Homo sapiens: one gene and its partner. The protein of the gene in region 1 purifies or fractionates together with the protein of each later gene. This does not show direct contact. Each region holds a gene or a part of one and is shown on either strand. Other genes may lie near its edges.

The links. The genes of interacting proteins can lie anywhere in the genome.
Region 2: the proteins of SYT9 (region 1) and MADD purify together in Homo sapiens (affinity purification with mass spectrometry; one large-scale study listed by BioGRID and IntAct). This does not show direct contact.

The regions. Positions count from the first base shown.
Region 1 is NC_000011.10:7,250,673-7,254,703, reverse strand, and holds the start of SYT9 (synaptotagmin-9), read right to left. Parts: upstream 2,801-4,031; 5' UTR 2,518-2,800; coding exon 2,373-2,517; intron 1-2,372. UniProt on the Homo sapiens protein: May be involved in Ca(2+)-dependent exocytosis of secretory vesicles through Ca(2+) and phospholipid binding to the C2 domain or may serve as Ca(2+) sensors in the process of vesicular trafficking and exocytosis.
Region 2 is NC_000011.10:47,273,133-47,276,632, reverse strand, and holds part of MADD (MAP kinase-activating death domain protein), read right to left. Parts: intron 2,807-3,500; 5' UTR 2,719-2,806; coding exon 2,657-2,718; intron 2,071-2,656; coding exon 1,474-2,070; intron 735-1,473; coding exon 431-734; intron 1-430. UniProt on the Homo sapiens protein: Guanyl-nucleotide exchange factor that regulates small GTPases of the Rab family. Converts GDP-bound inactive form of RAB27A and RAB27B to the GTP-bound active forms.

The DNA of each region.
Region 1 (4,031 bases):
GGACATGGCATTCAGGTGGATTCCTTTCCAGAAAAAGAAGTCATCCATTTACCGAGATGACTCTCTCTAGGAACCCATGTCTCAGGGCTGCTGTGCATGGTTGTTCTGGTTCACACTATCAACAGCAGGGACATTATTCACACGGCGTTGTGTGGTGCAGCTTTTCTACTACTCAGCTTTTAGGGTTCCGAGATTAAAGACACTCTTGCTTCAGAGGGATGAAGACAAATGCATCTGATGTAAGAATTAATGTCGGCAAGGCAAGGAAGGAGGGAAATGAAGGGAGATTTGGAAATGAAGGGAGAAGTGTCCTGAAGGAGAGGGTGCACTTTGGATGTAATCTTTGGCCTCATTTCCTCTCACCTTGCACTCGAAAACCCCCACCCCTGTCCTCATGAGCTGGCTACTTTCCAACAAAAACCAAAGAGCCACAGGGGCATGGGGCTACTTCAAAACCCTTGTGTCCTAGTTTAAGAAAGCAGAGCACTGCTATCAGGAACTCAGAGCAGCAAGGTCGACTCCTATCTCTAGCTATTCCTCCGCCAAGGAATCAGATTTCCTCTTGTAAGAAGCCTACTTAGTGACTCTTTCTCAGGGGTTGCCTGGTGTAGGGGCTGAAGAGAATCTGAGAACACAGGATCCAGCTCCCGGATTAAAAGGAGTAGAAGCAGAAAACTGGCCAAAAAGATGTGATTCAGAGATAGGCCTCATCCATCTTCTCTTGTAAAGCCAAAGACAACTGCTTATGTGGGATAACAAGGAGAACTCGTGGTCTGGTCACAGGCAAGGAAGTGAGATGTTTCAATACTAATACTTGCTTTGGGCAAAGCATGCAAAATAATTGTCTTGCTTCTGCTGCTTAAGGACGAACTTCCCCGACTTAAGACATCTTCCTGGGACTCCAGCTTGTGAGATAAGGGACTGTGGTTTATTCAGCACATCACATCCAGCAATGAGATGCACATAGGCTGGACATTAAACCTCCCTGGAAACCACTGGGATCAGTATTTCTCTACCCAATTATCCACTTTGAAGTAATATATCAATGATCATTCAATAAACTTAGTTAATATAACCACCGGCAATGGAAAACAATATTTTTTTCTTTTTCAATAGGAAAAAAAAGCCTCTGGTAGGGAAAATCTGATATAAACTTTAAAATTTTAGCAGATGACTTCACCCCACACGACCATCTTGAATATATCAAGGATATGCTATTTAAGTCTGGCTCAGTGTGACACTCTTTATAAATCAAATAATTCTTTAATTTATCTTTTGGATAAATGGATTTTTATATAATAAATTGTTTTCAATTCGTACATCATAATTTGCAAGGCAATAGCTCATTTCCAATATTTATACATAGCAATATCAAGAGAAAGGCCATTTTCTCATCCCATTTTTAACAATCCAACCACAATATGCTGTTTTGGTAAGTACTTAGGTTGGGAGAATATTCGAGAAAACTATTTCTCCAGGTGAGAAACATCTCAAGCAAACATTGGAAGGAATGCATTTTCCAGTAGCCAGTAACGGATGAGACGACCTGGGAGACCCAGGGACCTCAGGAAAAGCAAATGGCTCCACTAAAACTCCCTCCTCCAACCTTAATTGGTCAAATGCCAAAATAAATGAACTTTCCAAAGTTAAGAGCTTTGCAACTTTCACTAGGAGTAACTACAGGTGCACAAGCCAGGACCGACGAGTCTACGAACCCCATCGTGGCCGGCGGTAGTCGCTGGTCGAGCCTAGCGCCCAGGCCCAGGCCACCTCCATGCCGTGCGACCCGCCGGGAACGGGTTCAGGCCCGTCTGCCCAAGGCCAGAAGCACCCTGTCCCCGGCCCAACGCCGGATCGCGTCCCGCCCTTCTCACCCCATACCAAGGAAAGGAACTAGACGCTTGGGAGAAAGGATGAGCAGCACCCGGTGGGATTCGGCCCCAACCCGGGGCCGTCCCCAACTCCCAACTTCCCAGAGTTTCCTTCGGCCTCGTCCCCCTTCCCACGGCTCCGAGGCCGCCGCGGCCTCCCCTCGCTCTGAGTGCAGATAGCCCGGGAAGTGGAGAGCGTAGCTCGGAGCTAGGGAGCCGCCCCCAGGAGCCTTGGCGATGGGAGCGCAGGTGGCGGGCGTGGTCCCTCCAACCCTGCCCTAGCCGACCCGGAGTCGGCCTCCGTGCAGTAGCCACCGCCCGGGTCCCCGCCTGGTTACAGCATCAGGCCACAGTGCGCTGGTTCTTGATCACTCTCCTGGCTCGGTGGCCGCCCCCCGCCCTCTCCCAGTCCGCGTCGCTGTTCTGCCTCAGGCCCCGGTGCGGCCCCAAGTCCCAGCCCAGGGCCCTTAGGTCCCTCCAGGCGGCGGTGGCGGCACTCACCTGGGTCGCGGAGCCGGGGTCTGGCACGGTCCCGCAGGTGGTAAATGAAATCCTGGCAGCTGTCGTGCTCCAGGGCCCCACGGGCACAGAGCTCGGCCAGCAGCTGCAGCGCCTGGTGACAGAGCGCGTCCCTGGCCCCGGGCATCGCCCCCCCGCATCCTCGGACCGCGCCGGGCAGGCGGGCGCAGGAGACAGCCCTCCGCCTGCCAGCTCAGAGCCGCCGCCTCCGGGCCGTCCGCGCTCACCGCCAGGGACCTGCCGAGAAACGGTGCGAGCCTGAGCCCGAGCCCCAGACCCAGCCGGCCCGGCCTCCCACCGGTTGCATGCAGCTCTTCGCCAGCCGGTCGGTCAGGCTTTCTCTCTCTCCCGCCCGGTCCCTCCGTCCCTCCCCAGACACCGAGGAGAGGCGGTGCCGCACAGCCCAGAGCGCCTCTCTGCTTGCGCTCCGCCCGCTACTCGCGGCCGCCGGGGGGCGGGGCCAGGTCAGGAGTGCGCGCCGCAGGGTAGGATAGCGGCGGCCCCAGACCGGGGACCTGGGGTACTCCCCGGCTCCTGGCCGAGCGCGAGACTTGGCTTGGGACCTCGCGCCCAGAGCGGCCGCGCCCTGGCTTGGGGAGTGTGAGTGAGTGCGCGCTCCGGGCGCTTTCGCTACTCCACCCCTCATCCCTGATGCAAACCAAGCACCCGCTCCCACCGCCGAGTGTGTCCAAAGCACGTTCTTGGATGCCTAGTGCGAAGGTTACAATCTGGGCACACCCGCCAGATGCGCAGAACCGAGTCCCTGCTTCGAACTTGGAAAGAGCCGCCTGGGTTTGAACCATGGGCCTATGGGTGTCAGATGCCCAAATGCAGGGTTTGGGTCCAAGATTCGCCAACAAAGGAAGGATTTCCCAAGCACAGGCCCTTTTCGACCACTGTGGTGATTTGGATGGAGAAGGTGGAGGCTCTAGGTCAGAACTAAGATCAAATAAATAAACGATTCCTGGGAAAGACCCTGAGGCTTACCTGGGCTTCGTGGGTCCCTTAGTTTTCTAAGCAACCGTTTGGAAATCCAAACATTGCCAAAGTGTCTTCAGCACCCAAGGAGGAGTATCACAGAATCTTGGAGAGTTGGAAGGAACCTCAGGGCACCTCTCATCCACCCATCTTTTCAGCCTTTCAAGCAGTAAAGCCTAGAAATAACCACGAAGTACTCTGGGTGTGTGTGTGTGTGTGTGTGTGTGTGTGTGTGTCACTGTGCCACAAGCCTTTTAGGTACATAATCTCATTTAATTCTGTACATAGCCCAACAAGGTCTGTGTAATTGTTATCCTCATTTTACCAATGAGAAACTGGGGCCTGGGGACTCACAAAGGTGTTACTTGCTCAAATTCATACATGATGAAGGTAGCTTTGATTTTCTCTCTTTCTTTTTTCTTTTTTCCTTCTTTTTCTTTTGTCTTTTTTGTAATACTGGTGTTCAGGCCCCCACTCTAGAGCAATTAGAGTAGGATCTCTAGAACTGGTAACTATCATTCTTAGCCATGAGGTTGTGCCGTCTCTACGGACATATCACAACAATTCATATTTGCACAGAAAGATAATTTGGGATCCTATAGAATGCTCACGCAACAGGCAACCTTTGAAATCCTGCTGTGAATGGTACTAGGGTTTCAGGGA
Region 2 (3,500 bases), about 40 Mb from region 1:
CTACAGCTCCAGCTTTGTCTCTCCCACTGCCCCCTGCCCCACCATGCCTGCCACCTCCCAATCCAGGCACAATGGTGATCCTCAGTCACCTGAGATATGCAAATCACTCCCTTACCTTCCTAGTTCTTGTACTGCCCATCCCAGGACCACTCACTGAAACAGAACTACTGATATTTCCAAAGAATTAGGTCAGTACAATTAAGGATAAGCCCTAATGAATGGTAAACCCTCTAAATACATCCCACATGATACCAGTATCTTAATTCAACCCACATCTACGGAACACCTGCTGTTTACCAGGCATCATGTTACCTCCTGAAGACAAAAAGGTGAAAAATATGTAGTCCCTGTCCTCTAAGAGCTCGTGGTCTGGCCACTGGCATATTTAAGAGTTTCTCCCCTAGAAAGGTCTAGGAAGCTTGCCTCTCACCTTGTGCTCTAACAGAATGCAGGTTAGCACCTGGAGACAGGCGTCCACACCTAGAAGTTCCAAGGGAAGGTGCAGTGGGAAATCCACTAGGGTGAATCGAGATGGGTCTGGAAGAGCAAAGGTCAGAGCTGGCTGGAGCTCTTGGGGTAGGACCTCGATGTCTACTCGCTTCTGCCCAGAGACGGGTACTGGGGAGCGCAGCAATCGATAGATCCAGGCCTCAATCTCTCGAAGGTCATGCAGAAGGGCACTTGACTTCTCCTCTACCAGCAGCGATCCAGTAAAGATCCGCCACATGGTGTCCCTGAGAAGCAGACAGCAGGAATCAGACACATTAGCATCAGAAGCTGATACCCTACTGCAACTCAGTATCACCACAGAGGCTCTAATGATGACAATGGGAAACGGAGCATCATTAAGAAAGCCCAGTCTCTGAGCTCAGATAGGACCGGAAAGTATATACAATGGCAAAAGCAAATGTAAAGATATATACTGGGTAAGACTTACTGTCCTAACCACAGTTAAAACACCAAATTCCAGCATTACTCCAAACACAATTTTGGAAAGAGGTCTAACTCTGCAGCAGTCTTTTGCTTAGTAAAGATTAACTCTTGGCTGGGGATGATGCTCACGCCTATAATCCCAGCACTTTGGGAGGCCAACGTGGGTGGACCACCTGAGGTGAGGAGTTTGAGACCAGCCTGGCCAACATGGCGAAACCTTGTCTCTACAAAAATACCAAAATTAGCTGGTCATGGTGGCGTGCACCTGTAATCCCAGCTACTCGGGAGGCTGAGGCAGAAGGATCACTTGAACCCAGGAGGCAGGGGTTGCAGTGAGCCGAGATCGCACCACTGTACTCCAGCCTGGGCAACAGAGCGAGACTGTCTCCAAAAGAAAAAAGATTAACTCTAAATACTCTAAATATGCTTAATAGGTCTGAAGGACCTTGAGCTGTAGAGGAAATTTCCTATGCCCCTCAAAGACCAATTACATGGAATCTCTAAATGCTTCCCCCATTAGGCATCAGCAGCAAACTGTACCTTTGTACGCCTCGAGGGATGCCCAGTTTCTTGCCCAGAAGGCGCTCACTACAGCAGTCCACCAGGCGCTTGAGAGTATACAAACACTCTCGGAAGGTGGAGAAGAAAGGGTAGTGGCTGAGCACGCACAGGGACGTGAGAGTACTGTTGCGGGAGCGGCTCCCCGCCTTGGCCCGGCGTTTGCCCCGAGGAGACTGGTTCACATCAGGGGTAGAGTCAGCACTGAGAGGCTGCAGGGATGAGCCACTCTCTGAGCTCTCAGTGCCACCCTCTTCTGAGGCACAGGTGGCATGGGTTCCTTCCTTCCCACGGGACCCTGCCCCACCTTCCCCCTTCTCCTTAGAGATTCGCTTTTGGAAGGAGCGGTAGAAGTTAACACAGATGCCATATCGCGTGACTCCAGTGTCCTTGTCAGTGAGGGTGAAGACAAAAGAGGTATCATCCCGAAGGCTCATGCGCCGCTGCCGCACGCTCAGGCAGCCCTCGGGCTGGCAGAAGAACACTACATCTGGGGGCAGGGGAAACTCAGTGTGATCCTCCAAGGGGTATCGCCGTAGCAATTCAGGAGTCTGGGCCACGCTATCACTGCTCGGGTGCCTGAAGAACATAAAGACAAATTCAGCAGCCTGAAGGGATGGAATGGGCTATCAAATTTTAACCACAGTCAACAAATAAAGCTCAAGATGCTATTTTGGATAAAGTAACCTGACTGTAACACCTTGGAAAATATGGGTGCTGCCTGCCGCATGGAGCTGGTAACCTAAGTGAAGTCTACACTGTCATGAAGGCATCTATTCTGAAACGAAGGGGAGATTTTGACAATAAAATTATCACTGGCACCTTAAGATGATTAACATCTTTTAAAGTGAATTAACTAATAAATTACCAAAAAAGTATACATAGAGGAGTAGCTTATAATGTACTTTTTCTTTTTACAAAATAAGAAAACTGAGGTATAAAGAGTATATTTGCTCGACATCAAGAAGATGTTAGTTAAGAGCAGGGTTTTGCTTTCAATCCACCTGATTTTGTTTTTTCCCTACTGGCTTCGATGCTCCCATCAGGGTAAAATAACAGGAGAAGATGAGCTATGCAAAGCAACATGGAAATCGGAGAAGGGAACAACTGCAGATTTTATGGCTATCCCAGATATTAAGACAAAAGTCAATCTCTTCTTGGTTACCTGGCCCCTACGATCACTAGATAGTCAAGTAACCGAGGACAGAACTTCTTCTTTTGCACCATGGTTCCAATTCATCAGTTTATCTCAGAGAAGCATCAGGGCACCAAGCAAGGAGTCAGCATTCCCAGGAGGAATTCTGAAAATCGAAGTCTAATAGGAAAAAAAGTACTGATAAGATCCACTGCTGTGCCTAAGGGACTCATCCCTCTCAACTTCTTCCCGGCCAGAGGCAGAGGTCAGAAGGTCTTCCACTTTCATACTAATGATAGGAGAACTTGACGCTTGCCTAGCCTCGTGTCTAGGCTCATGAGCTCACAGAATCGAATGTTAAAAAATAGATAGGCCAGGCATGGTGGCTCACGCCTGTAATCCCAGAACTCTGGGAGGCCGAGGCGGATCACCTGAGGTCAGGAGTTTGAGACCAGCTGGCCAACATGGCAAAACCCCATCTCTACTAAAAATACAAAAAAATTAGCCGGGTGTGGTGGCACACATCTGTAATCCCAGCTACTCGGGAGTCTGAGGCATGAGAATCGCTTGAACCCAGGAGGTGGAGGCTGTGGTGAGCTGAGATCGCACCACTGCACTCGAGCCTGGGTGACAGAGTGAGACTCCGTCTCAAGAAAAAAAAAAAAATGTAGATAAATAATGGTTCACCTACCTATCCCTACCAATGACTTAATTTCCAGCTTAACGCCTGGGGCTCTGTTTCTGAAAAACAGACCTAGGCCATCTAATCTGGACTCAGTCATTGTAACAAAAATTGAAGTCACTCTCAGGATCCCTCCAGGGTGGATCAGGATCAAACCAGACTCCTCAACTAGCTAGCACTAACCTGCACTTC